2 linked regions of the Homo sapiens genome follow. The protein of the gene in region 2 purifies or fractionates together with the protein of the main gene of each other region. This does not show direct contact. Each region holds a gene or a part of one and is shown on either strand. Other genes may lie near its edges.

Region 1 (3,816 bases), on a different chromosome or scaffold from region 2:
AGTTCTGGCACCTGCTACATACAACATGGATGAACCTTGAGAATACTAGGCTAAGTGAAATACGCCAGCACAAATGGACAAATACTGTAGGATTCCACTTATATGGGGTACCTAGAGTAGCTAAATTCATAGACAAAAAAGTAGAATGGTGGTTGCCCGGGGTTTGGGGGGAGTGAAAATAGGGAGTTAATGTTTAATGGGGACTGAGTTTCAGTTTGGGAAGATGAAAAACGTCTGGAGACCAATGGTGGTGAAGGTTGCAAAACAGTGTGAATGTACATCATGCCACTTAACTGCATACACTTAAACACGGTTAAAATAGTAAATTTTATGTTATTTATATTAATACCATGATTTTCAAAAAAATTCATAATTCAGGGTAGGTGCAGCTCAGCAAGTGAACAGGTAGAGCAAAGGAGATGCATTATCAGGCTGACTTCAACGCACCTGAGCGAATGCTATGCTGCAGACAACACTCAGCTCATGAGACAGGCATGGAAAAGAAACCACAGAGCTGAGGGATGCCAGCTCTGCAGGCACCCGCTGAACCAGGCAGTTGGCATCCTCACAGCTGCAGGGTAGACCATTCCACCCGGGGGGACTGAGCTGGGTAACAAAGAAGCACCGGATGATCCCACAGGTGGGACAGGACCCTTGGGATATCATCTTCCAGTTCTTGGCTTCATGAAGAAAATGCTGGGCACTCAGCCAGCTATGACTTTGGGGAAAAGAACCTGCAAAAAATGCTGAGAAATGGTAGACAGAATCCAAATGCCAGAGATGCTGAAAGGCAAAGTGGTTCAGAAAAGACAGGGGATTTTACTGCATGAAATTCTGACCTTCCCAGGGAGTTCTAAGAGAACACACATTTAACACAGGAAGGCTGGGTGTGCACAGCATGGGCTGAGGGGAAGAGCACTGGAAAATGAGTCCGGAAACCTAAATTCAATCTGGCTCTCCCATACTTACCAGCAGAGTGGCCCGAGGCCATCTGCTCTCCGAGACCATCTGCAAAGGGGATGATAACGTGCACCTTCCCAGGCGGCAGTGATTAAGGGAAGCAACACAGATTCTGCATGCCTTGGAGATGGGGCTGCCTGACGCGTAAGTGATCAGGTGCTTTGCATATCAACCTCCAAGCCCCCAGAGACAGGTATTACTCACTCAAACCACATCACACACAGCAGAGAATAAGAGTTGAATTTAAGTATTCTAGAATACACACAAAAGAGGGCACCAAACTGGTGAGAAGCCTGTCAAGAAATGTGGATGGGGAGGAGAAAAGAAAAAAATGTTTTAAAGGATATACACCACGCTTATAAACATGTATACAAAAGCACAAAGATGGAAAGGAACAAAGTGAAACCAACCAGTTGCTATGCAGCAGGATAGGAATATGAAAATGTTTTTCTTTGAGATAATTTTAATGTTGTTCTACTAAGCACTTTTTAAAAACATCACCTACTTCTGATCTGAGTGTTGAATTATGGCCATCAAACCATTATGCACTCGAGTGAAATGACATTCAATGAGTCTAACTAAAGAAGTAAATCTGATCCCAAGTGGCCTACAAAGGTGGAAGCCCTTTGGGGGCTCAGGGGTCGCCATCCAGCTCGGAACCTCTGGGGCAAGCTCAGAGCCCTCCCACCCCCCTCGCCCAGCTGTGCTGTCAGAGACCTTCCCAGACCACAAATCAAGCTAGAGTCTGCCTTTACTAGCTATGTGACCTTGGACAAGTTTCTTAACCTGTCTGCTAAACCCTGATTCTTTCCTCTACAAATCAGGAATAACAACAGTAACCATCAACACAGTTTTTGTGAGGATTCAACAAGATAATCACCTAGATGGGGTCCCGACATCATCTTCATTTCAAAGGCAACTCACTCACTCACTCCTTTAAGATCCAGGCATACAGCCAGAACTCATCTGAATCCCCTACCCCAAGGAACCCGGAGCCCAGGGATGGGGCTTTTCTGACCCCCATCTTCCACGCGTTTCCACCTGCTGTTCCCTCCACCCAGACACAGCTGAACTCCTACACATCCTTTGGGGCAATTCCATTGTCACTCTGGGGACCAAACCTTCTCCAGCTGCCCGGGTGTGGTGGCTCACACGTGTAATCCCAGAGCTTTGGGAGGCCGCAGTGGGAGGATCTCCTGAGGGCAGAAGTTCCAGGCCAGCCTGGGCAATATAGTGAGACCCCAATGTTACCAAAAAAAGAAAAAAAAACCTTCTCCAACTCCAGCCCACACTTCAGTTGCTCACCCCCGGCACCACCCCATGTTGGTTTATGGGTATCTGTTTACTCTGTCTGCCCCTCAAGACTGGGAGCTTAAGAAACACTCTTCTCTCTCCGATACCCCTCCCCCATGCTTAATGTAGTGTAAGGGCTCAGTAAGCCTTTGCTGACTGAAGAAAACATATTGTGAGCAAACAAAAACATTTTGGAAAACAATTTAAAATAAACCAGAAATTAAAATCAGGTGGGACTAGTAAAATTAATCTAGCTCTAGAGAGAGGCCACAGAGGCTGCAGAAGGAGTGAGATTAGAGGGATTAGGGTGGTGGGGGGGCACACCAGGATGCTGCCCGGCTCCAGCCCCACTCTGCCAGGTCAGCTCTGGCTGGTAGCAGAGTCACAGGCATCCTGGGCTGGCGAGAGTCGAGACTGCCCCATAGCAGCTGCTTTCAGATGCAAGGGGACTCTGAGGTCACATCAACAAGACCTTTAACCTGCCAGCAAGAGAAAGTAATTGTGGTGAGGAGGGTCAGAGTGCCAGGCAGCTTGCTTCCTACCAAGGGAGGGGCAGCAGGCAGCACACAGCGCAGATGGCTAACAAGCACTGGGGGCTCCCCACCCCAGCTAAGAGTCCCAGGAAATGTAGAGAGGAGAGCCGAGGGCCTCACCCTAAAGAGATACAAGCTCCAAGTCGACCATCCTTATTCAACTGTGCTGAGGTGGGAGTAGACAGAGACTTCCATCAACCCACTTAAGTTCATCATTTTAAAAACATGTTTATATCTGAATATGAAATAAAGCACAGATGAATGCGCACCCCTATTTTAACAGTGTTTAATGAAACTGTAGATGTTGTTCCAACCTTTGTGTATTTTCAAATGGGTCTTCGATGAATGCATTGTAAACGAGAAATGAAAGGAGAGCACACACACGAACCTGGAAAACACACCCAGATGAATCAGCAGCTGACCCTGCCCTCAGGCAGCAGCCACGGGCTACAGGTGGAAACTGGAGTGCAGTTCCCACTGGAGGAGAAGGCTCCAGGCAGGGCAGAGAGAGGCCCGGGGAGGAGCCCACTCCCAGCCGGCCAAAGGAAGTCAAGCAGTGGGCAAGGATGGAACACGTGTTTTGAGGACAAATGGTAGGCGGAGGATTTCTGTGGTTGCCAGGCTGGATTTTTTTCTAAGTCCCCACGCAAGAATTTAAGGGAAGGCCCCACCCCCATCGACCTTCTGCTATTTCAAAACGAAACAGACCTGTGCCTTCATCCACTGCAGGGTACTAGGAACAGAATTCAATGAGATTATGCACGTGAAAGTGCTTAGCAAGTTAATATTTGTTCAGAGCCCTGTACCAGTGTAGGGTCATGTTACCGGCACTGGAGAGGCTAGGCTGCGGCCCCTTCCCCCTGCAGGCCAACCCCCGCCCCTTATTAACACTGACAAATCCAGCAAGTATAGAAGGGGAGTTAGTGCTCTTGCTTGTATCACGACACCCCCTTTGGGAAGGGTGTTCATTACCCCTCTCTCACCCCCCCCCACCTCAGCCTTTCTTTTAAAACAAAGAAGGCATATCCAA
Region 2 (3,816 bases):
TGGCTAATTTTTTGCGAGGGGGGGGGGTATTTTTAGTACAGACGGGGTTTAACCATATTGGCCAGGATGGTCTAGAACTCCTGGCCTCAGGTGATCTGCCCGCCTCAGCCTCCCAAAGTGCTGGGATTACAGGCGTGAGCCACCGCACCCAGCCGAGTTCCCTGCTTTCAATCGAGATGAAGGGGACCCAGAATAGCAGAAATCAAGAAGGTAGTATTTAATCACCAAACACAAGGTGAGAAAATCAACTATCAAGGACAGTGGAAATGTACCAGTAATCAGAATGCCCTGACCTACAGAGATCTGTGGTGGTGGCTAACTGATCGTGCTGTCCCTAGAAATGAAATAGATAAGCAGTTAACAAAGCCTACTCTAAAGAGCCACAAAATATATGTTAGGCATTATGGGCCACATGGTCTCTGTTGCAGCTACTCAACTCTGCTGTTGTAGCATGGAAAATACCATAGAAAATGTAAACAAATGAACACGGTTGTGTTCTGATTAAACTTTATATACAAAAAACACATGGAGAGACAGATATGGCCCATGGGCCATAGTGTACCAATCTCTGTACTTGAATACTGCTCCATCTATGTAAAAAGTCTAAACTATAGTAGCCAAAAACTGGATTTATCCCAGTGGAGAATCATAACCTGTCACTCAATTACCACACTGAAATCATTCATAAATCATGAACTTAGGTGATCACTCCAATTACCGCCATTTTTCAAAATGTAATGCCTTTACTAGATAAATCAACATAATTTCTGTCACTTGGTATGCAGGCATTGACATAGCTAATGTCTTTTCTCCATACCAATTTGAAAAAAACAAGACTTGGTTACCTTTCACCTGGCAGGACCAACAATGTATCTTCATAACATTGCCCCTAGAATGTGTCAGTTCTCGAGGTCTCTGTCGTAACTTAATCCCCAGAGAAAATGACATTCCATGAAACACCACACTAGTACACTATGTTGACACCATTATACTGATCATATCCAATGAATAGGAAGTAGAAAACACATTTTTAAAAATTAGAGACAGGGTCTTACTCTGTCACCCAGGCTGGATTAGAGTGGCATGATCATAGCTCACTACAACTTCAAACTTCAAACTCCCGGGCTCAAGCAATCCTCCTGCCTCAGCCTCCCGAGTATGTGGGACTATAGGCACATACTACCATGCCTGGCTAATTGTTTTTCTTTTTCTTTTTACTATAGACATGAGGTTTCACTACGTTGCCCAGGCTAGTCTCAAACACCTGGTCTCAAGCAATCCTCCCACGTCAGCCTCCCAGTGTTAGGATTACGGGCATGAATCATTGTGCCCTGCCTGAAAATACCTTAGACAACTTTATTAGAAGCATGCAGCATTTACGGTTCCAAAATGGTAGTACAGAAGCAAGCTGGTTTCAATCCCCTGACAGAAAACTACAACCAAATGCATATTGTGAAAATTATCACCAGCAATATCCCTGATCTAAAATATAAAAATTAGGCAGTTTCTGGGGCTACAAAGAAGTGAAAAAACTCCAAGGGAGACGTTAAGAGAATCAAGTTTCCAAGAATGTGGAAAATTTCTACCAATTCACAGTTTCTACACTGGAAAAAACTGAGATCAATGTGGACAACCACCTTCTCCATCATCCTGGGTTCCCTGGTAAAAGATCAGTCCCTCCCTGTCTCAACCCACAGGAAGCATTACAAATGCCTGAAGGGAGAAACATCCCTGAGGACATCCAGGGACAAAGATGGGAGGCAGGACTACCATCCCAGCCCTGGAAACTCTGTTTTATAACTTGGCCAAAGGAGAAGCCAAGTCAGAGTGGCTGTTCAGGAGCACCATACTGTAGGGGTACGCTACACAGGTCACCTGGGCATGAACACACAGCCAGCCTTCCCACAGTGCTGGAATATGCCCTTTAGGACTCCCTCATTCTGAATGGGCAGTATTCTTGATAGTTTGCTATAGCAAAGGCAAACGTGGGTTTAAGATTCCATCTAGTGCTGAAAACGAGGCAGTGACCTAGGGAAATTTTAAAGAAAGAAAATCACTTTCGGAGGCTGAGACAGGCAGATCGCTTAAGCTCGAGTTCAAGACCAGCAACAAGATGAAAACCCATCTCTACTAAAAAGTACAAAAAGTAGCCAGGTGTGGTGGCGTGCACCTCACCTACTCAGGAGGCTGAGGTGGGAGGATTGCTTCAGCCTGGGAGGTAGAGGCTGCAGTAAGCCATGGTCACACCACGGCACTGCAACCTGGGTGACAGAGAGAGACCTTGTCTCAAAACAACAACAAAAAAGATAAAAAGAAAACATACCCAATAAAAACCACAAGCCAGACAAAGACTGTAATAAATAACTAATCCTTCAATGCACAGACACAGATGTACATCCACAAGAAACAACAGCAAATGGGGAACCACGACCTCCTAAAATGGACGAAAATAGTATCAGTGACTGAACCTAATGAAATGACAATATGTGAGCTCCCTAAGAATTCAAAATAACAGTTTTAAGGAAATTCAGTGATCTCCAAAATAACACAGAAGAGCAACTCAGAAATGTATCAGAAAAAACTTTAGAATATATTAACAACAACAAAAAAGAGAAATCTTACAACTGAGAAATACTCAACTCAAAAGTTCACGGTAGAGGCTCTCAACAGCAAGATGGATCAGAGGAAAGATTCACTGAGCTTGAAGAAAAGCTATTTGAAAATATAGCCAGAAGAGAAGAATGAAAAGGAACTAAGATTGTCGGCAAGATGCAGAAAATTACCTTGAAAGACCAAACCTAGGAATCACTGGTGTTCAAGAGGGAATGCAGCAAGTGCAAGGGGTAAGCTTTGAAAGCTTTATTAAGGAAATAACAAGATTCCAAAAATTGAGAAAAATATAAATATCCAGGTACAGGAAGGTAAGATGACACCAAACAGATTCAATCCAAATGAGACTACTACAAAGCATACAATCTTCAGACTCTCAAAGGTCAAGGACAAAGACAGGACCTTAAAAGCATTAAGAGAAAAGAAGCAAATAACATGAAGGACTCCAGCTGGTCTGGCAACAGGATTTCTCAAGGGAAACCACACACAGGCCAGAAGGGAGTAGGATGACATTTTCTTTCTTTTTTTGTGAGACGGTCTCACTCCGTTGCCCAGGCTGGAGTACCGTGGCACAATCATGGCTCAATGCAGCCTTTATCTCCCAGGATCAAGCCATACTCTCACATCAGCCTCCCAAGTAACTGTTACTACAAATGTGCACCACAATGCCTGGCTAATTTTTCTTTCTTTCTTTTTTTTTTTTTTTTGTAGAGACGGGGCTTCACCATGTTTGAAATGCTTGTTTCCCGGTGCCGTAAAGAAATAGCACTTGAACATAAATTTTATTTCTTTAGCAAGGCCATTTTAATTTATTTATACATTTTTTTGAGACAGAGTCTCATTCTGTCGCCCAGGCTGCAGTGCAATGGCGCGATCTCGGCTCACTGCAACCTCCGCCTCCCAGGTTCAAGCGATTCTCCTGCCTCAGCCTCCCTAGTACCTGGGATTACAGGCACATTCCAACATGCCCGGCTCATTTTTTGTATTTTTTGTTTTTTTAGTAGAGACAGGTTTTCATCGTGTTAGTCAGGATGGTCTCAATCTCCTGATCCCGTGATCTGCCCGCCTTGGCCTCCCAAAGTGCTAGGATTACAGGCACAAGCCACCGCGCCCGGCCCTAGCAAGGCCATTTTTACACTTTCTGCAGAAAGGGTACACTCCCCAGCAGATTTGCCATGAGAGTACACCGAACAAAGGAGACAGGTT

Evidence for each region.
Region 1: the proteins of ZNF121 (region 2) and EPB41L4B purify together in Homo sapiens (affinity purification with mass spectrometry; one large-scale study listed by BioGRID and IntAct). This does not show direct contact.

What each region holds. Positions count from the first base shown.
Region 1 is NC_000009.12:109,310,867-109,314,682, forward strand, and holds part of EPB41L4B (band 4.1-like protein 4B), read right to left. Parts: intron 1-3,816. UniProt on the Homo sapiens protein: Up-regulates the activity of the Rho guanine nucleotide exchange factor ARHGEF18. Involved in the regulation of the circumferential actomyosin belt in epithelial cells.
Region 2 is NC_000019.10:9,570,727-9,574,542, forward strand, and holds part of ZNF121 (zinc finger protein 121), read right to left. Parts: intron 1-3,816. UniProt on the Homo sapiens protein: May be involved in transcriptional regulation.